7 separate regions of the Homo sapiens genome follow, and regions 2, 3, 4, 5, 6 and 7 are each reported to be linked to region 1. The links are microRNA targets in miRTarBase. Many come from high-throughput screens and were not tested one by one. Region 1 holds a microRNA gene; each other region holds the end of a gene's coding sequence. Distances are between the middles of the regions.

Region 1 (4,615 bases):
CTCTGATTTGATAGTTTTTTGTTGTTGTTGTTTTGTTTGTTTGTTTTTTTGCTGTGCAGAGGCTCTTTAGTTTAATAAGATCCCATTTGTCAATTTTGGCTTTTGTTGTCATGCTTTTGGTGTTTTAGTCATGAAGTCGTTGCCCATGCCTATGTCCTGAATGGTATTACGTAGGTTTACTTCCAGAGTTTTAATTGTTTTAGGTCTTACATTTAAGACTTTAATCCATCTTGAGTTAATTTTTATATAAGGTGTAAGGAAGGGATCCAGTTTTAGTTTTCTGCGTATGACTAGCCAGTTTTCCCAACACCATTTTAGTAAATAGGGAGTCCTTTCCCTATTGCTTGTTTTTGTTAGGTGTGTCAAAGACCACATGGTTGCAGATGTGTGGCGTTATTTCTGAGGCATCTGTTCTGTTCCATTGGTCTATGTATCTGTTTTGGTGCCAGTACCATGCTGTTTCGGTTACTGTAGCCTTGTAGTAGAGTTTGAAGTCAGGTAGCGTGATGACTTCAGCTTTGTTCTTTTTGCTTAGGATTACCTTGGCTCTACGGGCTCTTTTCTGGTTCCATATGAAATTTAAAGTAGTTTTTTCTAATTCTGTGAAGAAAGTCAGTGGTAACTTGATGGGGATAACATTGAATCTATAAATTACTTTGTGTAGTATGGCCATTTTCATGATATTGATTTTCCCTATCCATGAGCATGGAATGTTTATCCCTTTGTTTGTGTCCTCTCTTATTTCCTTGAGCAGTGGTTTGCAGTTGTCCTTGAATAGTTCCTTCACGTCCCTTGTAAATTGTATTCCTAGGTATTTTATTCTCTTTGTAGCAATTGTGAATGAGTCCCCTCATGGTTTGGCTCTCTGTTTGTCTATAATTAGTGTATAAGAATGCTTGTGATTTTTGCACATTGATTTTGAATCCTGAGACTTTGCTGAAGTTGCTTATGGAGGTTTTGGGCTGAGATAATGGAGTATTCTAAATACACAATAATGTCATCTGCAAACAGAGACAATTTGACTTCCTCTTTTCCTATTTGAATACCCTTTATTTCTTTCTCTTTACTGATTGTCCTGGCCAGAACTTCCAATACTATCTTGAATACGAATGGTGAGAGAGGGCATCCTTGTCTTGTGCCAGTTTTGAAAGCCCATTTTGCCCATTCAGTATGATATTGGCTGTGGGTTTGTCATAAATAGTTGTTATTATTTTGGGATATGTTCCATCAATGCCTAGTTTTTTGAGAGGTTTTAGCATGATGGGGTGTTGAATTTTATCGAAGGCCTTTTCTGCATCTATTGAGATAACCATTTGGTTTTTGTCATTGGTTCTGTTTATGTGATGGATTACATTTATTGATTTGCATATGTTGAACCAGCCTTGAATCCCACGGATAAAGCCTACTTGATTATGGTGGATAAGCTTTTTGATATGCTGGTGGATTTGGTTTGCCAGTATTTTATTGAGGATTTTTGCATCAATGTTCATCAGGGACATTGGCATGAATTTTTCATTTTTTTGTCTGCCAGGTTTTCATATCAAGATAATACTGGCTTCTAAATTCCCACAGGAGAAAGTGGGAAAGATCTAAAATCGACACTCTAACATCGCAATTAAAAGAACTAGAGAAGCAAGAGCAAACAAATTCAAAAGCTAGCAGAAGACAACAAATAACTAAGATTGGAGCTGAACTGAAGGAGATGGAGACATGAAAAACCCTTAAAAAAATCAATGAATCCAGGAGCTGTTTTTTTTTTAAAGATTAACAAACTAGATAGACCACTAGCCAGACCAATGAAGAAGAAAAGAGAGAATAATCAAATAGACACAATAAAAAATGATAAAGGGCATATCACCACTGATCCCACAGAAATACACACTACCATCAGAGAATACTGTAAACACTTCTATGCAAATAAACTAGAAAATCTATAAGAAATGGACACATTCCTGAACACATAAACCCTTCCAAGACTAAACCAGGAAGAAGTCAAATCCCTGAATAGACTAATAACAAGTTCTGTAATTGAGGCAGTAATTAATAGCCTACCAACCAAAAAAGCCCAGCACCAGAAGGATTCACAGCCAAATTCTACCAGAGGTACAAAGAGGAGCTGGTACCATTCCTTCTGAATCTATTTCAAACAATAGAAAAAGAGGGGATCCTCCCTAACTCATTTTATGAGGCCAGCATTATCCTGATATCAAAACCTGGCAGAGACACATTTGGTTCTTTTAAGCAATAGATTAGCCTCAGTTTTAGTATGGTACCTCTCTCAGAATCAAAAGACTGGACCATCATAAAAATCACACTCTCCCTTAACTCACTATTTTTAAGATTAATCACATTCACATGTATTTTTTTGACTATTTCTAAGGGAGACTGTGTTTTATTCACTGCTGTACTGCAAATGTTTTCTTTCCCTTCCCATGAATATTTCTGGAAATCTCCTGTGTTTATTTACTTAATTTGCTTTGTTTTATAGTTTACAAAAGGGCCATTGTAATATGGTATGAAGTTTGTATTCTTCAATAAAACTTAAATCACTAGTTATTCTCTAATACTATAATTGTCAATGATAATGTCTTCTGTGTAAACCTGGCAATTTTCACTTAATTGCTTCCATGTTTATAAAAGACATAAAAGATGATTAACATCTGGTCTACTGTGGAACAGGCCTTGGAAATTACTTAAATAACTTTCCGTTGATACCTTGGGCCATAATCACTAATGGCTTATATAACTTGCAAATGATTCAAATCATTTTATTCCACAAATATTTAGCAAAATAGTAGCAAAAATATGACTTGGCTTAAAACCGTCACTTATTTATTGAGGGCATTGCATAACTTAAGCTAATTATGATTGTTAGTTTTAGATAAATGCATTAGTAGGCTTCCCTTTGGCTCTTGAAATGAATGTTTCTCAAATCAACTTGCCATAGAAAACTTTAAATGATCCTATTTTAAAATACCAGATACAAAATATACTTTAATCAGATGCAAAGGTCATTTCTATTTTCTCTAGATTTATCTTATTTATACTGAAAGATGGAATGGTATGATGTAACATGGCCACCAATCATCAATGAGATAAAATTTAACTCAAAAACATTCACTTAATTTTAGAGGCATTTGTGAAAATACTGTAACAGTGAACTTTTGAAATTTAAAGGAATGATTCTAATTAAATCAGTGACTTTGCCACGTATCAGAAACACCTAGTTAAAGTTGCACTTTTTGCGTTGATAGGATGCTCAGCTATTAGGTGTCACAGTATTAATGCTAAAAGCTGATCTGAAGCAGGGAGATTAGGGATTGCCAAAGTGGTATAAATCAGTTAAGAGTGTTGCCTGCAGGTCGTATTTGTTTCTTTTTATTTTATATTACTTTTCTGTACAGTCAAAGGATAAGTAATTTTTGTTGATGTGAAAATACATTGTTTATTCCTAGTAGCCCCACTATATTTTATTTAATAGCCTTAAAAATTTTCGAAATCACTGCCTTACTTTGTTCCTACCAAAGAAAATGTAATTTAATAAACCAACTTTTGTTATATTTAAAGCATATAATGATGATTGTTCTAAGGGGAGTTGCATTTTAACTGTTGACGCCAAGGCCAAGATAATTATTTGCCTTAAATAATAACTACAATGGAAGAATTATAGGCATATTTAAAATAGAAAAGGTGTTTAATAATTGTGATTTTAAACATTTAAAAATTAGAAAAAGCATTTGGAAGAAAATTAAATATTCCTATAATTTCGTTAACCAGAGATATACCCTGGTGTTATTTTGGAATATTTTCTTGTATTTATATACTGATGATTCTTGAGCATACATAATTTTACTTTTTGTTATTTTATTGAGAAAAGAGTGAAAATTAATACATAAATGTTTTCCTTCTGTTAAGGGTTCCTGTCTAAGACTCCCTAAGCACTGATAGACTGCCACTAAACACTCATCCACCAGGAGGAATAGAAATTTTGAAGCAATTAAACCTTTAAGTTTCAAATTTCTGCCCAAGATATAAGACAGTGTATTAATCCCTCTTTTCCCGCAATATCTTCATCTTAACTTCTCTTTGCTTCCCCTTCCACAACCTTAACCTTCAATGCTCTCGAACCTTCAAAATCATTCCTTTGCATTGTGTTCTCTGTAACAACAGCAACAAAAACAGCAGCTCTGGCATCTTTCAGTTCTGAACAAGAGGTCGTAAATGGTAGGTGTTTCTTGCCTAGAACAATGCAACCTTGAAGGATTCAGAAATGCAAGTTGTATATTCTCTGGGTTGGGAATTGAGATGAAGAGTTTGCTAAATCTCAAATGCCACTTTTACTATCTTATGTTCCAGTGTGGCTCAGGCTTTCTGGATATTTATGAATTGGTGCCACTAAATATCCAGGTCTCCATTCTTACTGGGCCCTAAATTCTGCTCAGCAATCCATCTTCATTTTCCTGCACATTCTTCTGTCAGAAAGAAAATATTTCATTATTTTTCTACTTTCCTCAAACCTTAGATTTCATTTTCTCTCCTCTTGTGCTCATAAGATACCTTACTTCCATCCTTAGACAGTACCAAATAGAAATAACTTTTATGTTTTGATGTGAAA
Region 2 (4,615 bases), 27 Mb from region 1:
AAACTGAATGCATTTGGCTCTTTTCTTCAGGGGACATTGAAACCATCTTTCTAGATTCTTGCCAGAAATTGGTAATTTCCATAAATTAGCATCTTGATCTTTGCTGACACTTAAATTTGTCTACAGCAGGAGCTCCTTTTTGTTGCTTATTCTTAAAACCTGGCTTCAGAAGTGCAGCTACACCCCCAGGAACTAACCTCTTGCTTTGTACCTTCTGCCAGGAAATGACCCATCCATATGTGACTTCTGCTGTGGTCTCACGGCTGTCCAGGAGGCTGTGTTTACCTCCTCTCCCTAAGCACTTGAATTCCCTGGGAGTCCTGTCCAGAGCCCCTGGACACCCCACCTTTCCTTAAACCCTTCCTTAGGGTGGGTATGATTTAGCAGTCAATCCTGATGTTTTCATCACAGAGTCAGAGTGACCTTTGATCAAAACCACATCGCATATATTACTTACATGGTGATGTTTTGTCCTCTCAGATTGCTGGGCCCTTACCAGATGCAGCATATGCTGAACCCTGCATCCCAAAGGCCCTCCACAGGAGCGTGTGTTCAGGATGGAAATGTTTGTTTGCATGACGTGATGGCAACCATGGGTCTTTGGGAATGCAAAAGAAGAGCTCAGGGAAATTGGTTACAAAGGAAATGGTCTTTACCCAGAGCAGCTTTGAGGGCTTCAGGGGAGCAGTGAACTTTGCATACCTGAGCTCTGAGGACGTGCCTGCGTGTGGCTTCTCTCTGTTTTGCCCCGCACCCATTGGAGTTGGCATGTGTCCTTCCATTTTCTTTCCCGTTTATAGGATGGCATAAGGAAAATACACATTTATCTTTAGAAAGGGGCTGTGGTGTGGATTGGATATGTGCAAAGCTGGGTTTCCAAGCTTACAGGCATGAACGAAGTGACTCCAATCACAAATACTCCCTGTCAAGCTGCAAATACATAAACTGTGAGAAAATTAGTCACCTGGGAAAGCTAGATTAACATGCCAACCAGGAAGTAATTTCAAATGCAGTTTAAGGTTTGCATTTATTGACGATACCATTTTGTTTTTAATCGTGTAAATGAGGCCATTTGTTAGTGTTACATGGAGGTTTGGAGGGGATGTCACAGTCCTTCTCTACTTAAGAAGTGTCCTGACCTTTTCTCAGCAACAACTTGATATCAGAAGTTGTGAACTTGGCTGGGCGTGGTGGCTCATACCTGTAATCCCAGCACTTTGGGAGGCCGAGGTGGGCGGATTGGCTGAGCTCAGGAGTTCGCGACCAGCCTGGGCAACACGGTGAAACCCCATCTCTACTAAAATACAAAAAATTAACCGGGCGTGGCGGCATGCACCTGTAGTCCCCGCTACTCGGGAGGCTGAGGTAGGAGAATTGCTTGAACCCGGGAGGCGGAGGTTGCAGTGAGCTGAGATCGCGCTACTGCACTCCAGCCTGGGCGACAGAGTAGGACTGTCTCCCCCCAAAAAAAAAAAAAAGTTGTGAACTTGTGCCTGATTCTGTCTCAGGGTTTGGTATGCCTCTGACTGACTCGCAGGCACTACTTCAGGGGTGATGACTTCTTGAAGGGCTGCTTCGAACCCCACAGCCTTAAGCTCAGCTGACCTTGTTGTTCTACTACCTGTACAAAAAGACAGCCTTTCCCTTTCTAAAGATGTCTCCTAAGTGGGCCAGGATCCACCTGTCATCCAGCTTTATCTCAAAGTAGAGGCACGCTCCAGCCATAATGAGGCATATTCTGTTTTGCCTGTCTTGAATACACAGAGCTGAGATTCACCATTGTTGGTGAGTAGAGATGCACTGAGAGGAGGACTGGGTTTTACCCGATGTTCCAGACCCATCTACGGAGTAGGGAAAGCAGCAGGTAGTCATCACCCACCTTTTGCCTGGGCCCTGCCCCTGCAGCTCTTGAGCACGTCCCCTTGGGCGCCGAGTGCGGTCTTTTCAAAAGGAGCGTGAGAGGAGAGGAGAGGGCGATGGCGCGTGCCCACTGGGTTTTCCTGAAAACACTGCTGCACTGGGGCGCTTTCCATGAGTCATTCCTAGGACAGCCAAGGATACTCTCTGACAGCTCTCTTTAGCCAGTTCCCCAGCTGTTGTAATGGGGTGAGATGCCATTCTCCCTCCCGCTCCTGGACAAAGAGGTCCACATTTTAAATAGTAAAACGGCAAACCTTTAGTTCTTGCTGGTCTTCCTAGCTGTGGCGGGGGGAGTAAATAAGGAACTCTGAAGTGTCCAGTGGCCACCCTGTAAATTCATTTGCAAACAATTCTTAAAGCATTTTTTTTACAGCATAAGAGCATCTTGTGGGCCAAGGAAACTGCAGCTCTTGATTCTACCGTCCAAACCTTTCCCCAGTGGGACTTGATTAACCAGTAGGTGTTACCAACCTGATCCACAGAGACTACCTTGAACTAAGGGTGCTGAGAGGTCTCCGTGGCCACTGGTGACAGATTGATACTCCCGGGCCTCCCCTCAGTGGAGGCGTCTCGCTGTGTGAAGATGCCGTGTTCTCAGATGGGCTCAGCTGTCAGCGTGTGGCCAGCGTTAGGTTGAGCTTCCTGCTGCTTAGAAACCCAAGAGCTCGGCGAGCTGTGTCTGCTGGAGATTGGTGCAGTGAAGCAGCAGGGATCAAGTTAGCCTGGGCAGCTGCTGTGGGATCTGAGTGCAGCATCCCCAGAGGAGCCGCTCCAGCTGCAGATGACATGGGGCCTTGACCTCCGTGCACATCTGGTCCGTCTTCACAAGCCAGAAACAAAACCCAAGTGTATAGCTTGGATGCGGAGGGGTAACAGTTTTGTAGCTGAGATTAATTTTACTCAAGGTTACTTTCTGTAGCCCTTTTTGAAACAAAACATTTCTTCAGTTTGCTTTTTAGCAACAACTCCCGATCTGTAAGGGACCACACTTAAATTAACAAAAGTTAACTGGAAATGGCTTTCCATCTTTATTGACACTCCCTGTCTTTGCACTTAAATTGTACATGCCATTTAAGGAGCCCAACAAGCTTTGGGAACAGTCTCTAACGCATCCCTATTTGCAGCTGGGCGAAGGCCCGCCTGAGCAGGTTAAGTCCCAGGCGGCAATGGTGAGCCAAGCGTGGAACAGCCCAAACTAAAGTCGGGGTCTCTGTGCGGCGGCACGGGCCACTTCGGCACTTCAGTGTTTAAACTTCTGCATGCAGTGTAAAGACAGACAGCTGGCCACAGTGCTGCCCTGCAGTAAAGACCAGCCACCGTGACCGGCTCTCCCCTGCCTCCCTCCTCCCAGCCCACAGTCAGACGGAGCCTCTGTGGCAAGCTCAGGCCCAGTCCAGGGCCCTCAGAGTGTAGATACAGGTGGAGGCCTTTCCAAGTCTTCCAGTTGTCCAGTTAGAGTGGCAGAAAAGTCAGTGGCCATGTTCACCGTGTGCCTCACTCCCTGCAGCCTGGCTGGATGCAGTAAGGCATGGTGGCCTCAACAGCGAGGGAAGGCCTTTATGTTGGGGCCTATGTGGAAACTCTAGCCCCGTGCTTCCATTACATACAAACCGAATATATTAAAGCTTTAGAGTTTTTACAACTATCTATCTTTCCCCTGACATCTCCCCAGCCACCTTAGAGGTGGGAAAGGAAAGGATATAAGAAAACCCCACTAAATGTGGAGTACATTTCATCAAAGTCTGTGTGAGCCAGCTTGCCCCCAGTCACCACGACGTTGACTGCATCTCCCGCCTTCAGGTGCACGATGAGGTGGAATGCCCCCGGGCCCCCGCAGGTATGCAAAGCTCCTGGAGGGCGGTGGTATTCCAGGAACTCTCTCCTGTACCCAGCGGTATGCAGCTGGGCCACGCTGGCGTTGGAGACCGACAGCACTGCTTCCACGTAGGCGTCTCTCTCGGGGGTGAGGGTGGCCGTGATCAGGTAGCGCCCATCATAAGGAGCCGTGAAGACCCCTGCGGGGAGAAAGGCAAACCCTGTGCTCACCTGCTGTCGTCACAGCCCTTGCCATGGTAGTAAGTGGCCCCCCAGTGATTAACCTGGGCCTGGGAGACCAGCCATCTCTGTCTTCCCATGGTAGCTGGCTGCCTGCCTCAGCTGCTTTTTATGCTCATCCCCTACAGCCTACCCGTGATGCAGAGGCCACCTTAGCCCATACCACTTTTTGCCATGGGCCTAAGAATGCCTCTTGGAGGCATTCCTTATTGGAAGCACCTAAAGGCTAAAGTCAGCCTCAAAGCTTGGCTGCTGGGCAGAATACCCGGGAGGCAGGGCCAATAAAAACGAAGCTTGCCACCAACCCAGGGAGAGGCAGACATGGCACCTTGTAACCCCAGGGGCCATGCCAGGCTCCTCGTGGAAGAGGCCCATTCTCCCCATGCTGGGCAATGGCCAGAAGTGAGCACTGATACTCAGCCCATGACCCACACGTTCTGGGCCCAGGGTGGGAAAGGAAGTGGTGGCCAAAGGTGAGGAAGGTGGAAAGATCTGTACATGTCACAATTCGCTAAGCAGAAGCAGCTGTAGGTGGCCCCACAGCTAGGAGAGTCAGTGCCAACACCAAATGCCGGCAGGAATGGCCATCACTCACGGGCTCCGCAGCAGACATCGGACCTTGCCGCTGACAACAAGCCAA
Region 3 (4,615 bases), not on the chromosome of region 1:
TTGTGCTAAAATTTAAAGTTGTAACATGTAAATATTTCTGTATTTTTGAATTACCTTCTATTGAAGGAACATGTAATATTAACATATTCACTAGGCCAAATCGGTGTTTTTGTATCTCTTTTTAACCACCAAGCAAATTTCTAGGCTGCTAGAATCAGCCTGTCAGTGGCAGAAGTTATGGTTAGAAATCCTCTCCTGTTCATTTTATAGATGGGAAAACTTAAGGAGCCATGAGGGGGTTCTGCAACTCACCAGTCACACAGTCAGTTAATGGCCAAGGAAAGAACCCATTCTCCCAAATGCCAACCCAGTACTCTCCACAGAATTAAGCTATATTAGCATCGTAAGCTAACAACTCTTTTCCTACATCCCTACTGTAAGCCCCAGTAAAATGAAGCTAAAGTATCTTTTCCCCCTCCTGATTATTGGGAAATCTGCATTACCTAAATGCCAGATGCCTTGGGATTTCAAAATAGAATTATCTTACTGAAGAGAGGGCTGGTTAATAGAATGGAATAATAAATGACTACTGCTGTGGCTTAGATTTTTAAGAGAGTCCTATTGCAGTCTGTCTACCATGACAATGACCTGCTTTGGTTTCCCTAAGAACACCCAAGAGGAGCAATGACAAAAGTACACATTTTTATTAATAGCTGAATTTTAAACAGCCAATGTGTGGAGGTTATTTACTAACCAACAGGAAACACCTGCAGCAGGCTGCATACTTATAGAGCAGCAAACTTAAGGGAAGTCTGTAAGGCTTTACTGTCTTCCTTTTCAAGTCTCTTCACTGCTATGCACAGTTGAGGGCATAACCTTAAAAGTCTGTAACATAACAAAAACATTTTAAACATCAAACATCGTGCTTTCCCCACTGTGGCACATTTTTAGAGTAAAGCATTTGGCCAACTGGATGTTACAGCATGATGCCCACTACATTATGTTTAAGCTTCCATTCCAGTTCTGAACCCACCAGACCCTTGGAGCAGCTGGAATTACCAAATCAACAGGGTATCAGTGTAACTCAATCCTACATGGAGCAAACAGACAAAGCAGTTAGTTCCTCAAACACCCAATTTACTTGACAGAATCAAAGACCAACTTTATAAGTTTAGAAGTTTTTAAAAGCAGATACACATTTAGAATTAAGCTAAATGTATATCCTCCGTGTTCCCCCATCCTCACCCTCAACTCTCACACACTCACCCCCTTGGTAGGAGAATGGTGAGAAGTGGATGAAACTTGATGCTTGACTACATGGCTCCAGTAATGCAGTGAAAAGACAAAAACACATCAACGTGACGTTCCAGGGAAATAAACGCGAAATCATGCATCCAACTGGCCACTAAGGGTTGGCTGTACAGAATTGTAGTATGCGTATGGAGAAAATGCTAACTGAACCTTTCTAAACAAATAAAAATATACACAATTATTTTTCCAATAGCTCAAGTATTGACTTATTTTATGGGCAGATGATACCAAACTAGCAAAAAGCTTTATGCTAAAAATGTGCCTTTGTGGGAAAACCAGCATGTTCGGTACTTAAAATATTTCCATTCTGAACTGAAGTCAGTGAATAGGCATGTCTTGCAACTTCATTTGCTTAGCAGGGTCTTGGTTTGATTTGTAAAAACTGGGACATAAAATGTTTTACTAGCACTTGCCACTTAAAGTCCTAAATTTGGTGTATTGTGACCGTTGACAAGTAGTAGCATTTCCCCCGCCCCCAAAAAATCACAATATCAATTCTGTGGATATTTTAAAAGTTTATTTCTATTTTAACTAGCCCACAGACCCCATTCTTTGAGGGCTGATCTGATTTCTGACAAATGGTCTATAGACCCTCCTCTCGGAAACTTCCAAAAAAGTCTGCACCTTCCATCATGATGCACATTTTAAGTTAAAATTGCCAATACAACCCTTAAAATGCAAGTTTATTGAATAAAGCTGAGAAGAGCAGTAAACAGACAAAAAATGCATCCACCTAAATAAAAAAATTCACATATTTACATAGTTCAGTAACTGTTAAAAGTTTTCACATGCAGAGGTTAATGCACAGGAAAATGTTGGTAATAGCGTCTGGATGTCTTGAAATGCGGAAAGCAATGTATAGACACACAAACACATTAAGGTTTAGCTATAGGTCAATTAACAAACCTATGCAGTCCCCACAGAGTCACACATTCTAGTTCCAATTCCTCCTTTTAGGCACAAGCAAGTTGCCACATTCTTTGTAATGGTTCACACTGACCATTAATGGTGTTGAACAACAGTAGCAAGTTTAAATATCCCTTCATTTACAGAACCATCCATCCCACCAGGGTAGTATGCAACATGCTTCAAAGAATAAGAAGAGAAATTTAAAAGCCCAGATTCTACTCATAAAAATATGAATGGAGAAAAGCAAGTAGTGTCTGTGCAACACAGTGCAGTATATTGTACAGAATATTTTTAAGGCCATGGCAGTCTATAAATTAAAACTGATATTCATTAAAAGAACTTACTGTTGACTACACTCTGAGTGCTCAACACATTTGGAAATGCAGTCTACATAAGTGCTGCTTAACAAAAGAAACAAAATCACACACAGTGTGAGGCAACACATAAGCAGGTGTACCATAGAGTTTTATCTACTACAGTGGTCTATATGAATAATAATTTACAAATGAACCAGTATTAATATGTCCCTTTATGTATACGGAAGTCGCTAAACTACAAAACATGTCCATTTGAAGTTTTTAGACATCTCTGTATCATAGAAGCAAACAAACAGCATCAGTTCCTCAGTTCTCTGTGTGACTGATTATTAAACAACCTGTAGACATTGAGCATGATTACATTAGATAAAGCAGGCAGGTCTAGAGTTGTCACAATAATCAAGATGTCTAATGGCACCAGTCAAAAGAGTGCCAAAGCTTACATCAGTAAGAGAGAAAAATAAAAATTTTTTATTTGTTTATAAGTATCTTTTGTGCTGAAAGTCAACTTTATGACTGGATATAAAAAGTCAGGAGTTAAGAGTGTCATGCAGCAGCACTGATTTAATGACTGGAGATAGAACAAACAGATGTTTGAACAAAGACTGACATTCTTAACAGGTTTTATTATATTGGGTGGAATGCTCTAAATTCATGAACGCTTTTGGAAAATCTTCAATTCTCAACCCCTTAAAAAAGTATCCTGAACCAGGAAGAAAAAACAAGAGACAGAAATAATGATCTGGACAGATACAAAACAGGATGCTTTAGTTCCTCCCATATCCCAACTGCCATCTGGTGATAGAGTTCTCAGAAAGCAGGATATCTTTAATATTCATCAGGCAGAATCTCACCAGTGCAAAGAACCAACATTGATCTGGTGCCTCCGCTCACTCTCTGCAGACCATTTTGGATTCCTAAGATGTAATTATACATTTCACATGCATTTGTGAGATAAAATAAACATTATGTTTACATATATCCCACATGAGTCATTCACGCCTAAAGGTTTTCTAAATACTGTGTGTGGCACTAGAAACTTCATGCTGTATCAAGTCAGTGTCAGTATTAAGCTACTGGACTCTATAATGAAATATTATAGATAGACATTTACTGAAAACCAATATAAAAATCTGGCCCAGAAAGACCAGAATGGAAATATGCAATTTTCTTGATTTAAGATGGTCATAAGTATATGGGGTTTTTTTTCTGTTTTTAAAGCTCTACACATGGTTTAAGACAGGTATGTGTAAGAAGCCTTTTTGTGTGTGCTGACTTTATCATGACAACTCTAGCTGATTCTTTATGAAGGATTAGGGATATTCATCTTCAGCAGTGCACATGAGAAATAAACTCTGAAAAAGGCAATTTCTGGGGTTTAGGAAGGACCGTATTCTGGGAATTACTTCAGAGGAACGGACAATAATTCTAGGATTATAGCCAAGAAGGACTGGAAGACTTCAGGAGATGCTTCAGCTTCTTCTAGATTTTGAATGCTGAATAAGCCACTGAAGTGTGATATCTAAAGATAGAGGGGAAAAGTGAAGACATTAAAGTTAAAAAACTAAACATCAAACAGAGACAATATTTAAAAGGCAGCTAATTCAAGGCACACACTATGCCTGACCTCTGCTGCTTTTCTGCATCTGCATTACCATACTCCATTACCCGAACTTCAAGAGAATATGAGGAATTATCAGAGACTGAAGCGTTTTCTGATTTAAAAATTAAGTTGTGTATAGGACGGCTGGTGCCACCTTTTATGTGTTGCCCACACAATCAATCAGGTGTTGCATGCAAATTGCCAGGAAGGCAAAAAAAAAAAAAAAAAAAAAGGAATAACCCCTGTTTGCCCTCAAGGCGCTTTTAAGTATAATACACAGAAAAGATGCAGTAATTCCCGGGGCTTGGGGGCCACCCCACAGAACTCCAGGTTAAAAAAAAAAAACAGCAAAAGAATGTTAAAAGGCATGAAACATTGTGGAGCTCTGGATGGATTGTGAGTGATACAATGTGACTAAAGCACAGGGATGGGAGAGGAGGCTGTCACTGCCAAGGCTGGTGCAGGGTTCACACCATGCCCTTTTGACATCTGGGGCTGGGTAATTCTTGTCCTCACTTCTTCAGAAGGGTACATG
Region 4 (4,615 bases), not on the chromosome of region 1:
AACCCAAACTCTGGGCCCACGTCAGGTGGCCAGTGAAGTGGCAGTAGTCCCCTCCACGCCTGTCACCCTTCACACCACCAGGCCCTGCACACCATCTCCTCCCAGGATCCTGCGACACCCACAGTGAGGGAGAGGAAGGGACTACCAGTTCCTTTTGACAGACAGGAGGCTCCTGCTCAGAGAAGTTGGACGCCAGGCCTGGAGCCACGGCCAAGCCCAGGGGAGGGCAGGGCCTCAATGGGCACGCATTTGGTTCCTTACTCTTCCTGATGAGGGCAGTTTTGAAATCAGCAAATTCAGTGATGGGGACAGAGACGGGGAGCTTCTGAATGTGGCTGCAGGTGTTAGTATAGAGGCTTGAACTGGTTCTAGGAGATTCCTAGGGTGTCCTTTGAATGTTGTCTTTTTAGAACTAAATCCTTGCTAGGTGTCCCCTCTGTCACTCTTATCTTCTCCTTCATTGCCCTTATCACAATCTGACAGGCCCTGCCTGTGGTTCTTAGCTGTTTCCCATGGTTAGAAGGTAATGTTGGTATCCCAGGACCCTGGTGCTCATCAGCCCCATGATAAACAGCTGTGAAATGCATCTGGCTAAGTGTGAGATGGTGCGGCTGCCACAACCCCTCCTGCCTGGCCTGAGATCTGGTTGGAGCTTGTGTCACTGTCACCCTCTCGGTCCTTAAGCCCTTCTCACCTCTCTTTCAGTTCTTTGCGTGTTTGGTGATGATCGCCTATGGAGTGAGTGCCTTCTTCAGCTACCAGGCCTGGCGAGGAGTAGGCAGCAATGCGGCCACCAGTCAGATGGCTGGCGGCTATGCCTAAACCACCTGTGCCACGGCCCCCTCTGGGGCTGAAGCCGCCGCTGGGTCACAGAGCAGGGTCACCCTGCAAGCCTGAAGCTGGGGAGCCCTGCGTGGAGTCAGCCCAACAGGGACTGCATTTGCTCCTCTCTGCCCGTCAGACATAAGCTCTCACAGCGCTAAGGAAGCAGGCCCAGGCTGGCAGGCATCTCGGCTTGCAGGAGGCCAACTGCTGAGACCTCTTCTCCATCCCCCTTATTCAGTGGAAGATGACGGGGGATCTGAGGCTGTGTCTCTGCCTTGTCTTTAGAGGACTTCAGCGTCCAAGACTGGGGCCCACCCTTCTCACCAGCACTAAATGCACTAACAAGGACTCCAGACCTGCAGCCCCAGACCCGCCGTAGTATAAGCCTAACAAGCAACACGTAGCACCTTAGTCTTTGTTCCAGGAGAGCTGAGCAAGCTGGTGAAACCACTCTCCTTCCTTTAAACACCGTTTCAACCAACCTCTCCCTGGAGCCAACCTGTAAAAAGTGGGTTGATTGCTGACAGCATGGTCTTCCCTCCCTGCATTTCAGACATACCAGTTACTGAAAGCAAATCAGTTTTAAGTGATTTCTCAGTGCTGAAAAGCCTGTCCAGGTTTCCTTCCCTTTCCCAAGCCTCTCTCTGTAATACTCCCTTTGGGCGAAGCTAACATCGGTGCCTCCCCGACCTTGCTGACTAGGCACATGGGACGCAAAGGAGGGAGGGAAGCAAGGCCTTGCCTGGCGAGTTGTCATGTGGTTGGTGGTGACTGTTTTATTTTTTTTAATAAAAATAAAGATGAGAGAAATTATTTGGACAAGATGTTGGCAAATCACTTTTACAGGTGCTTGTAACCTCCAGGAGACCTCAGCTTGACTGTAGAAGATGCCTGCTGTAGGGCAGTTCACGTTCTGGAGTCGTTCAGCACCACCTGCGAACTCTTTGACCGGAGGAAGGCTGCCTATACTTCCTGCTTGCTGGGTCTGGAACAGTCCTGGTTTATGCTGTTTGTGCTGGCATAAATAGAATAGCACGGCCTTTTATTCTCACAAGTGACTCAGTTTGACAATAACTTAGTCACCCTTGCTTTGGGCAGGTTAGGTGAGCTTACTGAATCAAAGATTTCAACAATATCATCTACCTTGAAAGTCTGTGAAGCTTGGAGGTCATATAATCAAGGTGGCTGGCCATGCTGCCTGCTCAGAGCTGGTAGAGACAGCAGAGGAAAGCAGCTGAGTACTCCTGAGCTTATTTTTCCAACACCACAGAACAACGTTCTCTGAACAATAAGGTAAAAGCATTTCTAGGTACCCTCTGTACCCTTTTGTTATTTTTTATTTTTATTTTTTGGAGACCGAGTCTTGCTCTAGTGCCCAGGCTGGAGTGCAATGGCGCAATCTTGGCTCACTGCAATCTCCGCCTTCTGGGTTCAAGCAATTCTCCTGCCTCAGCCTCCTGAGTAGCTGAGACTACAGGTGAGCGCCACCACGCCCAGCTGATTTTTTGTATTTTTAGTAGAGATGGGGTTTCACCATGTTAGCCAGGATGGTCTTGATCTCCTGACTTCATGATCCGCCTGCCTTAGCCTCCCAAAGTGCTGGGATTACAGGTGTGAGCCACCACACCTGGCCGATTTTTTTTTTTTTTAAGAGACAGGGTCTTGCTCTCTTGCCCAGGTTGGAGTACAGTGCCACAACTACAGCTCACTGCAGCCTTGACTGCCCAGGCTCAAGCAATCCTCCCACCTCAGCTTCCTCAGTAGCTTGGACTACAAGTGCAGGCCACCATGCCCAGCTAATTTTTGTTTTTTTTTTTTTTTGAGATGGAGTCTCACTTTGTCACCCAGGCTGGACTGCAGTGGCGTGATCTCGGCTCACTGCAACCTCTGCCTCCCAGATTCAAGCGATTCTCCTGCCTCAGCCTCCCGAGTAACGGACTACAGGTGCGTGCCACCATGCCTGGCTAATGTTTTGTATTTTTAGTAGAGACGGGGTTTCACCGTGTTAGCCAGGATGGTCTCGATCTCCTGACCTCGTGATCCGCCCGTCTCGGCCTCCCAAAGTGCTGGGATTACCAGCGTGAGCCACTGTGCCCGGCTGATTTTTAAATTTTTTGTAGACATTGGGTCTCGCTATATTGCTTAGGCTGGTCTTAAACTCCCAGCTTCAAGTGATCCTCCCATCTCAGCCTCCCAAAGCGCTGAGATTATCGGCATGAACCACCACACTTGGCCCTGGTATAAATATTAATAGCATCACTTTTTACTCTAAAGTCTCGGAGTTTGAATAATAAATTAGTCCTTCCAGGAGTAAGTTATAAGAGTTTGGTTTTAAGGAAGGGCAATACACTTAAATGTAAAACAAAATCCCAGGCAAGTTAGAGAGCTCACCCCTCTTATGTTTCCAACATGAATCAAAAGCCTGTTTCAGGGGGGACATTAAAGGCATTCAGTCAATGCTAAGGCTCAGCAGTTTGTGTGACTACTGCTTCCCACTGGGGAGGAGTCCTAAGCAAGAGGACTGGGGCTTCCTCACCCCAGGGCAGGTGGGAGCCCCATCAAAGGTGGCACCTGACATCACAGTCTAAGTGTCTGAGGATGGAGAGACAGGCTGCTAGTTTATTTTAAAAGAAATCAGAATGTCTACTTATAATATTAAGTGACAACAGACTTGCCTCCTTTTTGCTGAGCAGAAAGGGTGAAAAAACCAGCCAGGCATGGTGGCTCACACCTGTGATCCCAGCACTTTGGGAGGTGGGTGATCACCTGAAGTCAGGAGTTCAAGACCAGCCTGACCAACATGGTGAAACCCTGTCTCTACTAAAAATACAAAAATTAGCTGGGCGTGTTTGTGGACACCTATAATCCCGGCTGCTTGGGAGGCTGAGGCAGCAGAATCACTGGAACTCGGGAGGTGGAGGTTGCAGTGTGCCGAGATCGTGCCATTGCACTCCAGCCTGGGCAACAAAAGCAAAACTCCATTCCCAAAAAAAAAAGAAAAAAAAAAGGGTGAAAAACCAATTTGCCTTTATCATCGTTTTTTCATCATTTAATCTCTGGACTTGTCCACTGGCCTTTTCTCAAGTAGGCAGGCTGGTCCACAGGTCTTAGCAAGTGCTCCCAGCATGCCTGGGCTGTGGTGGACCTCCCATTTATAGACAAAGCAAGGGAAAGCAAGCCCAGGAGAGGTGGCATTTAAAAAAAAAAAAAAAAGACCAAAGCAATAATTAATAACCTTATGGCAGTGGCTACATTAAAGAAAGAATACAACTCATTGAGAATGGTGGTTCTTGCGAAACACCTGAAGTTTTACTCATGGTACAAAAGTATTTAATAAGTGACACATCAGTACAGAAACACAGAGCTTGTAGCTTGTCCTTTAAAACCAGAATGGCCAAGTGAAAAGTCAGTACAGATTCTTATTTTTACTATTAAAAAAAAAAAATCAAAGGGACACACTGGGAATTGAACTACTATGCTTTTTCTTCGTTCTAGAGATGACATATATGTTTTCTGATAAGTAATCTACCACACATTGCACTAAACCAAAGCATACAAACAGCCAGTAAAGCTGTGCTCTACCTGCTACTCATGCTGGGCTGGACAGTGGAACACCATCTTGGTAGGAGAGATTTTGACAGGAAGAAACTGCAGAGTCCCTACCTAACCCAGAGAACCTTACAAACTGGTTTATACACAAAGGATTTTCAGCAAACATGCAAACACACTAACATGCTATAGGAATATGTTTTAGTCTATTTCTAGCACACAGCATACATTCATAGGTGCC
Region 5 (4,615 bases), not on the chromosome of region 1:
AACAGACAGAGACACACACAGGATGTCTCCATTTATACAACATGTGGAAAAGGCAAAATTATACAGACAGAAAATGGGCTTGTGATCATCAAGGCCTGGGGGTGGGCAAAGGGATGGACTAAAAAGTAATAGGAGGAAATGTAGGGAAGTGAGGGAACTGTTCTCTGTCTTGACTGTGGTATTGACTGCATGATGTAATTGTCAAAACTTTGAGAATTCCACACTAAAAAGGGTGAATATTACTGTATGTAAATTATACCTCAATAAATACGACCTTAAAATATTACAGTCATGTTCACACAAAAACCTGCACACAGGTGTTTATAGCATCTTTATTCATAATCAACAAAACTTGGAAGCAATTAAGGTGTCCTTCAGTAGGTGAATGGATAAATAAGTCATGGTACTTCCAGACAATAGCATATTATTCAATGAGAAAAAAAAAAAAAAAAGAGCTAGCAAGCTACGAAAAGACATGGAAGAAACTTAAATCCACATTACTAAGTGAAACAAATCAATCTGAAAAGGCTGCATACTTTATGGTTCAGAGGCAAAATTATGGAGACAAAAGAAAATAGCCAGGAGTTTAGAGGAGTAGGCGAAACACAGAGGATTATTGGGACAGTGAAACGGCTCTTTATCCTTCTGTAATAATGCATACATGTCATTATTCATTTGTCTCAACCCACAGAATGCACATCAAGACTGAACCCTAATTAAACCATGGACTTTGGCCGATAGTGTCAATGTAGTTTCATCAATTGTAACAAATGTACCACTCTGAAGGGGGATGTTGATGATGGGGGAGGCTGTGTATATGTGAGGGTAGGGGATATATGGGAAATCTCTGTACCTTCTGCCCCATTTTGCTGTGAACCTAAAATTTCTCTAAAAACTAGTCTTTTATATAAATGGGCATACATATACATATATATGTCAGCACTAAAATATCACGTTACAATAAATATAAAGGAGAAATTATTGAAAGTCATGTACAGTGAAATGTGTTTTCCTCCATATTTCCTGGAATTCATGAGGAGTGATACACTTAGGAGTAAGGTAAAATGGGAATAATGAAGGGGACCAGACCTTGTTCTAGGGTATGTTAGGAAGGAAGAGGTGATCTCCAGGCACCCTCCTGAGAGTCAGCTGACATTGTCCTAAGTTGGGGATAATGTTGTATCACAAAATATCCAAAACTGAAGGAAGAATAGTGAAGCTTCAGATACAGTGCTGGATGAGGTGAAGGGAGGTAATGGGTGAGCAGACATTGGTCTAAGATGTTGAGCAGCATGTGATGGGCCATCAGATACTGTGAAGAAGTGAGGAAGCAGAGCTAATGATGGCTCAGTAGACATTGATCTAAGGTGAGGTAATGGGATGTGTCACCAAGCACTGCCCAACTAGGGCTTGGGAATTAAAGGGGCATTGTGGCCCTGCTTCTTTGACTATGTTCTATCCTTTGGGCCCCATCTTCACCTCCCCATACTGCCCTTCTTAAAGGTGAAACCATCTTTGCAGAGCCCAAATAGTTCCCACTCCCAGAACTGCCAATAGACTGGCCCCAGACGCCACCCAGCAACTGTGCATCTAATCAGATCATCTGTCAGCATCTGTAAGGCCACTGCTGCCTATCTAGGGCAAGATACCTAATATCCAATGAAGATCCACCCAAGTCTGCTCTAGTTCCCTGCTATTGGCTTCAGGCACTCCTCTCGGGGCAGGATGAGCAGGTGTGTGGATTGGGTTCTGGAGTAAATGCGGCTCTGTCGAGTTGCAACTGAGACAGGACAGCGCTGTGCATGCTGAGGAAAAATGAGCAGGGAGTCTTTTGCAATCATGTTGGAGCTGTGGGATTCTGGAATCATGGCAGGAAATCCTGGAAGCAAGCATCCACATGGGATTTCCTGTACCTGTTTTCCCTTCTTTAGCATCAGACCAAAAGGTTCACAATGACTTTTTAGCTTTAGGGTTGAGAAGGGATACAGCCCAGGTACAGACTAGAGGTGAAAAAGCCTGGTGTGTTTTAGCCAAGTTGGTTCTCCCTATTAGCGCTTCTTATGCTGCAACACAGAAAAAAATCAGACAGAAGTCACGCAACAAGCATGGGTCAACTCTCCACAGGTGCATTTATGGAATGCCTGCTGTATGGCAGTCATGGGTCTAGACTCATAGTGGTGAACAAAAGGGAAATATTTTCTAGTGTAGAAGCCACAGAGAAATGAGGAAAATACACCAGGCAGCATGGTGGAAATTGCTAGGGAGAAGAATAAAGGAGGAAGGGTAAGGGGCTGGAATTTTAAACCAGGCAGGCAGGGAAGGCCTGTGTGGAGGTGTCATGGAAAAAAAGACATGACGGACAAGCCACAGATAAAATAAAGAATTGTGCTCTTTGCAACGGGCACTGCAAATACAAAGGCCCTGAGTCAGGAACTGATGTTTGAGGCACATGGCGGGGAAGGTCCTTGTGGGGTGCGTGGGACGAAGATGGACACAAGTAGACAGTGAACATATGGTGGGGTTGGTTTTCATATGAGTTATCAATTTCATATGATTTATGATTTATCTCATATCTCATATAATGTAAGATAATGATTTCATGACTTATCAACTTATGAAAGTCAGATCATTAAGGAAAGTAAAATGCTGGGCTTCAACTCAGTCACAAGTAAATTAAAAAAAAAAAAGAGGCAGGCAACTGAGTGAGAAGAATTGTAATAGCAGAAGGAAGAATTTAAGTTCTCCCAGATGACCTGAAAATCCTAACCTCAAAGGCTTTCTTGAGGGTGGTGGGAGTGTACAAAACACTGTGCTGGGCCGGGCGCAGTGGCTCACGTCCGTAATCCCAGGACTTTGGGAGGCCGAGGCGGGCGGATCATGAGGTCAGGAGTTCGAGACCAGCCTGGCCAGCATGGTGAAACCCCCGTTTCTACTAAACATACAAAAATTAGCTGGGCGTGGTGGCACACGCAATCCCAGCTACTCAGGAGGCTGAGGCAGGAGAATTGCTTGAGCCCGGGAGACGGAGGTTGCAGTGAGCCAAGATAGCGCCACTGCACTCTAGCTTGCCCGACAGAGCAAGACTCTGTCTCAAAAAAAGAAAGAAAGAAAGAAAGAAAGAAAGAAAGAAAGAAAGAAAGAAAGAAAGAAAGAAAGAGAAAGAAAGAAAAAGAAAGAAAGAAGGAAAGAAAGAAAGAAAGAAAGAAAGAAAGAAAGAAAGAAAGAAAGAAAGAAAGAAAGAAAGAGAAAGAAAGAAAGAAAAAGAAAAAACACTGTGCTGGGTGTCAAACACAATGTGCTGAGAACCTGTGGGGCTCAGAGAGAGTCCTGGCAGATAATGAAGGGGACTGTAAGTCTTTTTCTATGACAATGGGGACTCAACATACGCTCTGAGGTCTGTGTCTGAATACACAGGGAGTTTGTCTTATTGCAGTATCTCTTGCTTGATAGAAATACTCAATGGGGAATTGGATATGCACAACTGTGTTCGATTCAAAAGAAGAAAATACCCACAATTCTACTAGACAGTGTGTTCTGGAACAAACAACTCACAGAAGGATTCATCACTATCATATATATTATGTTGTCTTACCATTCAAACTGTTGGCACTATACCTAATCCACAGTAAACAGGATTATCATTCCCATAATATGATCTTTCTTATGAAGAATTTGGTAACAGTATTCTATTGTAGTTTTCATGAGAAGGCTTTTCCTATTCACCAAATTGACTCGGTTCCTTGTCAGTATGAATAATGACCCAAGGTTTACTGGGGATGGTGACAATGTAGGAAGGGTCCCTCGCCTCATTCAGTGCCTTCTCAGAGGCCCTCTCCAGAACAGCCATGTGTGACATTCTGATGTGGTCATTTCTATTTACAATAATATACATATTTTTCTGCTGCATGCGTGCAACAGTGTACAATCAGACCCAACCCTCAGGGGGGTTTTCTCACACTGTTTCTCTCAAGCGTGGCTGCTCTGATGAACACTGAACACTGATTTCTGAACGAAGCCTTTCCCACAGATGCCACACTTGTAGGGTTTGTCTCCAGTGTGTGTTGTCTGATGTTTATTCAAATTGGACCTGTTGCTAAAGGCCTTCCCACACTCAGCACACACGTAAGGCTTCTCTCCAGTGTGAATTCGCTGATGCACTTGGAGCTGTGATTTTTTAGTGAAAGACTTCCCACAGTCACTGCACTCATAAGGTTTCTCTCCAGTATGAATTCTGTGATGTGTAATCAACTCTGACTTCTGTCGAAAGGTCTTCCCACATTCAGAACAAATGTAGGGCTTTTCTCCGGTATGAGTTTTCTGGTGCTTACTGAGATTTGACCTGCCACTAAAGGCTTTCCCACACTCGGCACACACATAGGGTTTCTCTCCTGTGTGAACTGGCTGATGCACCAGGAGCTGAGACTTGGAGGTAAAGGACTTCCCACAGTCACTGCATTCATAAGGCTTCTCTCCAGTATGAATTCTTTGATGAGTAATAAAGTTTGACTTGCGGATGAAAGCTCTTCCACACTCAGTGCATACATAGGGTTTCTCTCCTGTATGAATTTTCTGATGAACAATGAGTATTGATTTCTGGTTGAAGGCTTTCCCACAT
Region 6 (4,615 bases), not on the chromosome of region 1:
TTTGTACCTTTAGTCTAAGCCTCACCTTTAGCCACTATGTTGTACTGCCTCTCAGTGGGCTCTTCAGTTGATAATATTTTCGTCCCACCCGCACCCCCCCACCAATTGATTCCCATACTGTGGCCAAAAACTAGTTGTGATTTATCATCACATTTGCACTGTTGCTCTTCTTTTTTTTTTTTTTTTTTTTTTTTTTTTCAGAATATGCCAGTGGTATTTTCCAAGAAGAAAGGCTTTGTCCATATTTCTGCTTGCATCTGACCACTGGCTTCCTTTTCTTCTTCATAGCCCTCCCAAGCAGGCAATGCCTTCCAGGAGCATACAGCCCACATCCATGCCACAGAGTACGCGGTGGGTATCTATGACAACGCCATGGTCCCCCAGATGTGTGGGAACCTCACTCCCTCGGCACACTGCATCAATGTCAGAGCTTCCAGAGACTGCGCAAGCATTTCTTCAGAGGATTCGCATGATTATGTCAATGTCCCCACAGCAGAAGAGATTGCTGAGACTCTAGCTTCTACCAAAAGCCCTTCCAGAAATCTCTTTGTTCTTCCCAGTACCCAGAAGCTGGAGTTTACTGAGGAAAGAGATGAGGGCTGTGGAGATGCTGGTGACTGCACCAGTTTGTATTCTCCAGGAGCTGAGGACAGTGATTCACTCAGCAATGGAGAAGGTTCTTCTCAGATCTCAAATGACTATGTCAACATGACAGGGTTGGATCTCAGTGCCATCCAGGAAAGGCAGCTCTGGGTGGCTTTTCAGTGCTGCAGAGACTATGAAAATGTTCCAGCAGCAGATCCCAGTGGAAGCCAGCAGCAGGCTGAGAAAGATGTGCCATCCTCAAACATAGGTCATGTCGAGGACAAGACAGATGATCCCGGGACCCATGTCCAATGTGTCAAAAGGACATTCCTTGCTTCAGGGGATTATGCAGACTTTCAGCCATTCACACAGAGTGAGGACAGTCAGATGAAACATAGAGAAGAGATGTCAAATGAGGACTCCAGTGACTATGAAAATGTGCTAACTGCCAAGTTAGGAGGCAGGGACTCTGAGCAGGGGCCTGGCACTCAGCTCCTTCCTGATGAATGAAGACCCAGGTACCCAGCCATAAAGCCACATTGAGTAGTCTATCCCATAGGATTGACTACTGCAGAGTCTAGTGCAGACCCGTGATCACCTTAGTGCTTCAGTGGATTCACTGGTTAGATTAAAAAGAGGCTGAGATGAGCAGTGAACTAAGAGGCCACACAAAAGCAGAGGTTTGGGAATTCCAGAAGGGAATTCTTCTCAAGCAGAGTGTGGTTATCTCCTGTACCAGCCTAAGAATGTTTGCTGAAACTGCTTCCTAGAACTGTGAAGAAAGCAGGAAAGTAGTGCACAGTAGTCTAAGATTATTACCTTCATTAATACCAACAGGCTGCAAAGCAAGAGTATAGATTATTGTATAATCCAGTCAGAGGTCAAAAGGAAGGAAGAAGTTGGAGTGGAGTGGGGTGGGCAATTTCCATTTTAAAGAGTGTAGGCAGGCCAGGTGCAGTGGCTCATGCCTGTAATCCCAGCATTTTGGTAGGCCGAGGAGGGCAGATCACTTGGTGCCAGGAGTTCTAGACCAGCCTGGCCAACATGACCCATCTTTACTAAAAATACAAAAATTAGCCAGGCGTGGTGGTGTGCCCCTGTAATCCCAGCTACTCAGGAGGCTGAAGCAGGAGAATCGCTTGAACCCGGGAGGTGGAGGTTGCAGCAAGCCGAGATTGTGCCACTGTACTCCAGCCTGGTGACAGAGCGAGACTCCCTCTCAAAAAAAAAAACAAACAAAAAAGAAGTGTGGGCAACCAAATGTAGGTAAGGATGAAGAAGAACAGGAACTCTCACTGGTGGCTGATGGGATTGCAAAGCGTCAGGGCAGCTTTGAAAAACTTTTCAGCAGTTTCTTATAAGCATAACTTATCATATGGCCCAGCCATTTCACTACTAGAAATTGACGCAAGTGAACTGAAAACTTATGTTCACACAAAAACTCGCACATGACTGTTTATAGCAGCTTCATTCATAATTACCAAAAACTAGAAATAACCCAGATATCCTTCAACAGGTGATTGGATAAGCTGTTGATATCCATTCCTTGAGTTTATCCATACTCAACAGTAAAAAATGAACTCTTGGTTCACACAATAATATAGACATATCTTAAATCCATTTTGCTAAGTGAAAGAAGCTAGGCCTAAAAGTCTACATGTTGGGCGATTCTATTTATATGACATTCTGGAAAAGGCAAAACTATAGGGATGAAGAACAGATCAGTTGTTGTCAGGTTTGAGAAAAGGAGGGAAGTTTGCTACAAAGGGGCTGCAAAGGGAATAGGCTGATGGAGCTGTTCTGTATGGTACTGTGTGGTGGATACATGACAATATCCATTTGCAAACACAAGAACTATACACATGGCCAGGCGCGGTGGCTCACACCCGTAATCCCAGCACTTTGCGGGGCCGAGGCAGGGGAACACAAGGTCAGGAGATCAAGACTGTCCTGGACAACATGGTGAAACCCTGTCTCTACTGTCTCTAACATTTGTAAACCTGTCTCTAATTTGTAATTTGTAAACCCTGTCTCTCATATTTGTAAAACTACAAAAATTAGCTTGGCATGGTGGTGTGCGCCTGTAGTCCCAGCTACTAGGAGGCTGAGGCAGGAGAATCACTTGAACCAGGAAGGCGGACTGCATTCCAGCCTGGGCAACAGAGAAAGACTCTGTCTCAAAAAAAAAAAAAAAAAAAAAAAACTGTACACTAGACAAAGGGGCTTTTATTGTATGCAAATTTTTTAAAAATGAACAGACTGTCAAGGGAACCCAGGATGGTATGCAAATTGTGGCAAATGAATCTAATTGTATTATAAATGTATGATATCAACTCACTGAAAGGGATGGGGAAAAAAGAACTGACAAAGTTGGAAAACAATGTTTTGACTTATAACTGTAGATAAGGACACAAAGAACTGTATACAAAAACTGCACTCTGGTTGGTAAATTTGTATCTCACAGAGGCATGGCTTAGCAATTCTAAAACGACTTTATATGTATATTTGGGTTAAATAAGTCAATCTATTGTAGATAAGGAGAGACAGGTTAGTGTAAGAATTGAATTGCAGGGCACCCAACTGGTGTCCAGAAAGCTGGAAAATTGGTCAGCTGTTGGGGGGAGAAAATCCACACATCTGGTGTCAGAAGTGTCGTGAGTGAAAACAGACCATCACTCCACCAAGTGGCCAGCATTTAAATTCATGCCACACAGAGGGAACCATGACAGTCTGGTACTGATGACCATGCAGGGTTAGCCAGGGCAGCAGCAAGCGCATCGAAAGGACAATCCCATAGTCAAGTAAGGAGAAGTTTGTATCATATGTGAGAATGAAGCTTAAATGGACTGAACAAAATCTTAAACATTGGCATGACAGAATTCTCATAACTAAGAGGGGATGAAAAGTTATGAGATCTAAATTAGAAGTTATGAAGACATCTGTCACCCAGTAAGGGTGGGAGGGACAACGTATCAGTTGGGGGCAGGTCCTGGAATAAACTAAGCCAGCTCTTTTTTATTTTTTGAGATGGAGCTTTGGTCTTGTCACCCAGGCTGGAGTGCAATGGCATGATCTTGGCTCACTGCAACCTCCACCTCCCAAGTTCAAGCAATTCTCCTGCCTTCGCCTCCCAAGTAGCTGAGATTACAGGCGCCTGCTACCATGGTAATTTTGTATTTTTAGTAGAGATGGGGTTTCACCATGTTGGTTAGGCTGGTCTCGAACTTCTGACCTCAGGTGATCCACCTGCTGTGGCCTCCCAAAGTGCTGGAATTACAGGCGTGAGCCACCACACTGGGCCTTAAGGCAGCTCTTGCTTGTTTACACACCAACAAGCTGGATACCTCAATCAGCCAGTCACACTTACATACTCTCCCAAATCAAGAATGATTAATGCACTGTAGATTGTCTCATATTTAGATACGTAACTTTTCTGTTTATTTCTTGTTTTAAGAAATTTTTGCAAATGAATCAATGAAAAATTTTTTATTGAATGTTAATTTTTTTCTTTCCATTTATGGTTTTGTTTTCTCACATTAGTTGCCAGGAAATGTTGACTAATTGTCTTATCTCATACACTCGATGATGCTAAATATGAGGAAATTTTTTCAAGATTAGGATAGGATGAAAAAGTAGATATAAAGATAACCAAGGCCAGGTACAGTGGCTCACGCCTATAATCCCAGCTCTGTGGGAGGCCACGGCAGGCAGATGACTTCAGCCCAGGGGTTCAAGACCAGCCTGGGCAACATGGTAAAACCCATCTCTACAAAAAATACAAAAATTAGCTAGACATGGTGGTGCCTGCCTGTAGTTCCAGCTACTCGGGAGGCTGAGGTGGGAGGATCACTTGAGCCCAAGAGGTTGAGGCTGCAGTGAGCCATATTCTTGCCTCTGCATTCCAGCCTGGGTGATAGCAAGACTCTGCCTCAAACAAACAAAGATAACTAACCCATTTTGATTCCTTAATTAGTTAAATAAAATGAATTAATTACCCAAACCTACATTATATTGATTGTGTCTTCATTCA
Region 7 (4,615 bases), not on the chromosome of region 1:
CCATATCTGTAGATGTCATTTGGAAGCATCAAGAAATTGATAAGTATGTGGTGAATTAAAATTACTTTTATAATGTTTTGCTTTCATTAATGTTTGTTATTGCAAAAATGTAAGATTTCCTACAATTTTGTCTTCAAATCCCAATCTAGCCCTTCAAACTTTTATCCAGGTTCTCCAGAATATTTGGAGTCTTTGTTATCAAAGCACAAGGAAAGCTGGCATTCATTATCAGACTTCGCTGCTTTACAATGATTTCAAATCATTTCATGATACAAATAAAGTGCCTCTGACTGGTGGTCAGTCAGACCTGGGTAATGGTGCCAATTCTGCCACCAGCTAGCAAATCAAGTGACCCTGCTCTGTAAAACAAAAGGAGCACCCTAGGATCAAAAAAGTAGACAACTTTGGAGCTTAGATTAAGATCTCAGAAATCCTACCATGAGAATCCAGTGAGATAAAGCAATGCCAAGTACACTGTAAGTAGCAAAACAGTATACAAAGGGATGCTTCTATATTTTCACCTTGTTTCATTACACTCATTTTAATTGTGAGGAGCCCTGAATCCAAAAAGGGTAGTGACGACTAGTCCAGTGCTCCTTCCACCGTATCATGCGGTTCTAAAGTCATTCTGGACATACAATCTACAAAAATACATCATTTTTCCAGCTCATGTCCATGATCCAAAGTGATATTATACACAAGTGTTATCTGACAATATAAGAATGATCTGGGAATGTCTGTTCAAAACGGTAGTAAATTTAGTCTTAAACACAATTTCATTTACTGCGACCATACTTAACATGCATAAAATATTTTTAAAATACAAACTTAAATTGGCCAGATTCTGAATGTGTACTTTTTTTCTTTTTCAAAATGCACTCATGAAGAACCAAAGTTCATATTCCAAATTAAATCTGTATGTCTGGAAAAGTAACCAATCAAAGTTCATTAAAATATACAGTGAAAACCGGTATAAATTAGGCAAACACCATAATCTAATGAATATCAGGAAATTTCTGAGTTTCTAAGGATTGTATTAAAGGTAACTTTTTAAAACCTTAGAAATCTTAAGCACATAAATGTTATAATGAAGCATTTGCAAATGACTGCTCAATTACTTTTATTCTAGCTCTAACATGAAATTGCATTTTATTAACTCTTCATAGTGCTGCTATTCTTATTTTGATATTAATCTAACTTTCAAGTTAGTAAGCTAATGATAATGAGCTAACAGATTAATAATAAGGAATAAGAAACTAATAATAGCAGATAAGTTATGGAAAGAAAATAAAAGGCCAATCACATTGACTAATGAAGCCCAAAAGCATGATTAACTAAGATTTCTTATAATGCACTGAATAATTCACAGCATAACATAATTCAGATTTGTTACATACCATATAAAAGCTATTAGTTGACATGGCTAAATTCACCTAAGAGCCAACCTACCTTGTAACTATTAATTTAATTTAAAGCCTTGCTGTTTACTCCATCATTTCTGCCAAATGTAGTCCAAATTGGGTCTCAGCATATTCAAGAAATCAAGCCACAGAAATGTGTACTTGTATTGCTAGGCTCCCTGCAATATTAAAGATTTTGCTTTCTCTGAAGATATTCTGAACCATGATCATCTTTAAGGCACTTCAAATACATTTCTGACCACTAAATTTAAGTAGATACTAATTAATTACTGCCATATTAACAATTCATCACGTAAGCCACAGGAGGCAAGAGTCTCATAAGGAATTGCCTTCACAACCACAGAGATTCCAGAGGTGATCTGAATGAAACACGCACCAATGGCCAGATCCAAAAGGAAAACTACCTAGACTTCCTCAGATAAAAGTCAGGATCTTTAGGAATTAAAACAGGAAGGGACACTATAAAGGAAAAGTGAGGTTTTTTCTTTTTCTTTAACGTACTTCTTTTCTTTGAGCTTCTTGGTCAAATAATTTCAAGGTACATGCTAATAAAAACTACAAATCAGATTTTTGCCTTTAGTGAAGGTGCCTAAAAAGCCAGATGATCTATGACTTTGAGGTGAAACAGCAAAGATAAAGATTTAATGTTCCTGTTATTGTTATAATTAAATACAATGCTGTGGAAGTTAGCATTTCCTCAGAAGTAATTCACAAATATATTTTTATCCTTATCTAACATACAGTGACCATTACTAAATAAGCATTACATGCATGCAGTTTGGCCAAATTATGGAACCTTTTCTGTAATGTGAACTTATTTCAATATAATTCCTGCTTGGCTAGATTCTGATTTGATGTTTAATCAACTTATAAAACCCTAGTGACTGGGAAATGTTAGAAAATTTATCTATAATTGGATCATAAAGTTTTTATATATTTTAAAACCTCTTATTTAGAAAGAGTATCAATAATATCATTTACATATAATTTCTAAAAGAAGAATAGACTTAATTGTTGACAACAATGGGAAGGAATCAAAAGGCAAATTAGGCTGGGTGCGGTGGCTCACGCCTGTAATCCCAGCACTCTGGGAGGCTAAAGCAGGCTGATCACCTGAGGTCAGGAGTTCGAGACCAACCTGGCCAAAATGGTGAAACCCGTCTTTACTAAAAATATAGAAATTAGCTCGGAATGGTGGCGGGTGCCTGTAGTCCCAGCTACTCGGGAGGCTGAGGCAGGAGAATTGCTTGAACCCAAGAGGAGGAGGCTGCAGTGAGCTGAGATCGTGCCACTGCACTCCAGCCTGGGTGACACAGCAAGACGCCATCTCGGGAAAAAAAAAAAAAAAAAGCAAATTAATTATTTTATACTTTAAGACATTTTCAAAGATGGAATCAGACTAATTTGTAGCATATAAATGGTAATGTTTATCCATAATATTTTGGAATTCAGGGGTCTGTGAATCATGTAACCGAATACTAAAGCTATATACACGATATAATTTAAAAGAATGTACACTGTGTACAAGTACACAAAATAGATGTAGAAAAAATAAACAGCAATTTATTGCTATATATTTTAGTATTAACTAAGAATAAGTGGGGTTCTTTTTCTCCTTTGTACAGAGATTTTTCTTTCACTAGGAGCAACAGCAAAACTATCTTTAAAAGGACAAATTTCAAATATAAAAATGGCCTACATGATTTTATAAATTGATTTTTCCTTTAAAGTTTTGATGAAGGCATAATTTTGTGACATTCAAGTAACCTTTAAAACATACTTTTATTCCATCGATACATCTGTCAAGGTTTTGGGGAATCAACCCAACAATGAAGAACTACACATTTTGAACTGGGGTTTTTTTTTGTGATTAAAAAAAAAAAAGAGCTTCTTTTTGCTGCATAAAATAAATCTAAAGGACTGAATTATGGTCTACCTGTACAGCCATTATACATACATACATTAAAGTACTGGACAATAACCTGTCACCTAAGAAGTATAACCGACCGCATTTATGAACAAACGGGGAAAACACATTCTCTAGTTCTAATAAATCATATATTATGTGTATGAAAGCTAGGTTACCAAAAACACATCAACACACACACCTATTTCTGAACCACCAAAAAGCCTCAGGGAAGCTAAAGAAAACACATATTCTTGAGGCAGGCAGGACAGTTGGCTTCCACTTGATGAAGACATGCTTGACTGAGTGATCCTGGGCAAGATGCATGGAGGAAAAAAATCAATGCCACCACCCATTGGCAAAAGAATCACTTTTGTCTAACCTCCTATCATCTTGTAACCTAGAGATGGCCTAAATCTAGACTGAACTTCTGTCTACAGAAATAGCCCTTTAAATAGGCTTTTTTAATAAAAGAGGTCCTAAACTAGGTTCCTCTCCTACTACTAGATAACTATGTTTTAATTTATAAATATATGAATGGGTACCTCTTTTCCAAGCCATTCAATATCTACCAAAATTAAGTAGAATTAAAGCAGTAAAAAAATTGTGATTTTTTAGCTGTATACATTAGGGGGTCACCAGATTTCATATTTTCCCATTTTTAAAAAAATTCAGAATTTCTGTGAATCTTGCTGGAAACGATTTAGTTTCTCTGGATTATTGGATGCCATTTGGGAAAAATCACGAAATATGTCCTGATAAGTTTCATCACCTGCATGAAATAAAATAAAGACACTTTAAACATTTACACAAGTATTAATCAAACAACATTCATATTTATTACTAGTACTATTTTATAATTCATTACATTAAAATTTTGTTCAGATGAGCATTTTTGGAAGAAAAGGGGCAACTAAAAATAAATGCTGAAAAATTATGCAATGAAAGAAAAAAAAAAACTATACCTGAAAAAAGCACCTCAGATGCAGCCACAGAAGAAAGCTCAGAGTTAGAAAAGAGCAAAGATGCAAGTGTTTTAAAGCAATGTAAAGAAATACGTTTATTAACACACGGGGGGGAAAAGTCATTCTAAATGAGGTGGAGTAAATGAGACCTTCTTTAAATAAATATTTCCCTTGATAAAGGCCAAAAGAAATGACTAAAACCAAATACTAATGTTTTGGATGGATGCAAGTTATTAACAAGACAAACTGATAATCAAGACAAACTGATAATCAGATAGGGAAAAATAATACTATCTTTTAATTAAAAGCAATTTGAAAAAGTA

What was found. The annotated mature microRNA hsa-miR-302f reads UAAUUGCUUCCAUGUUU and lies in region 1 at 2,617-2,633, shown strand. An mRNA with a match to its seed (bases 2 to 7 or 8) in the 3' UTR can be bound and repressed. Matches are read on the target gene's strand: a 7mer-m8 pairs with bases 2 to 8, a 7mer-A1 pairs with bases 2 to 7 and ends in A, and an 8mer does both.
Region 2: the mRNA of EMILIN2 is a reported target of hsa-miR-302f. Seed matches in the 3' UTR shown: 7mer-m8 at 1,373-1,379.
Region 3: miRTarBase lists ARL8B as a target of hsa-miR-302f. The part of its 3' UTR that is shown has no 7-base or 8-base seed match.
Region 4: miRTarBase lists PLLP as a target of hsa-miR-302f. The part of its 3' UTR that is shown has no 7-base or 8-base seed match.
Region 5: the mRNA of ZNF585B is a reported target of hsa-miR-302f. Seed matches in the 3' UTR shown: 7mer-m8 at 3,004-3,010 and 7mer-m8 at 2,253-2,259.
Region 6: the mRNA of LAX1 is a reported target of hsa-miR-302f. The part of its 3' UTR that is shown has no 7-base or 8-base seed match.
Region 7: miRTarBase lists ACAP2 as a target of hsa-miR-302f. Seed matches in the 3' UTR shown: 7mer-m8 at 2,663-2,669.

What each region holds. Positions count from the first base shown.
Region 1 is chr18:30,296,320-30,300,934 of GRCh38, forward strand. It overlaps MIR302F (microRNA 302f), which reads left to right and starts at 2,591; the gene lies at 2,591-2,641.
Region 2 is chr18:2,912,387-2,917,001 of GRCh38, reverse strand. It overlaps EMILIN2 (elastin microfibril interfacer 2), which reads right to left. Exons shown (of 8, transcript NM_032048.3): 8 at 999-3,935. The coding sequence ends at 3,598. It overlaps LPIN2 (lipin 2), which reads left to right. Exons shown (of 20, transcript NM_001375808.2): 20 at 1-3. Among named protein-coding and RNA genes, the nearest start is that of LPIN2-AS2, 52 kb to the left of the region's middle.
Region 3 is chr3:5,178,048-5,182,662 of GRCh38, reverse strand. It overlaps ARL8B (ARF like GTPase 8B), which reads right to left. Exons shown (of 7, transcript NM_018184.3): 7 at 1,752-3,999. The coding sequence ends at 3,950. Among named protein-coding and RNA genes, the nearest start is that of EDEM1, 7.4 kb to the left of the region's middle. RefSeq lists an enhancer at 521-570.
Region 4 is chr16:57,253,120-57,257,734 of GRCh38, reverse strand. It overlaps PLLP (plasmolipin), which reads left to right. Exons shown (of 4, transcript NM_015993.3): 4 at 706-1,638. The coding sequence ends at 822. ARL2BP (ARF like GTPase 2 binding protein) reads right to left here. Exons shown (of 6, transcript NM_012106.4): 6 at 4,100-4,615. Among named protein-coding and RNA genes, the nearest start is that of ARL2BP, 10 kb to the right of the region's middle.
Region 5 is chr19:37,181,261-37,185,875 of GRCh38, forward strand. ZNF585B (zinc finger protein 585B) reads right to left here. Exons shown (of 5, transcript NM_152279.4): 5 at 319-4,615. The coding sequence ends at 3,967. Among named protein-coding and RNA genes, the nearest start is that of ZNF585A, 11 kb to the left of the region's middle.
Region 6 is chr1:203,773,587-203,778,201 of GRCh38, forward strand. LAX1 (lymphocyte transmembrane adaptor 1) reads left to right here. Exons shown (of 5, transcript NM_017773.4): 5 at 289-2,786. The coding sequence ends at 1,095. Among named protein-coding and RNA genes, the nearest start is that of LAX1, 11 kb to the left of the region's middle.
Region 7 is chr3:195,275,330-195,279,944 of GRCh38, forward strand. It overlaps ACAP2 (ArfGAP with coiled-coil, ankyrin repeat and PH domains 2), which reads right to left. Exons shown (of 23, transcript NM_012287.6): 23 at 1-4,099. The coding sequence ends at 3,999. Among named protein-coding and RNA genes, the nearest start is that of XXYLT1, 6.5 kb to the left of the region's middle.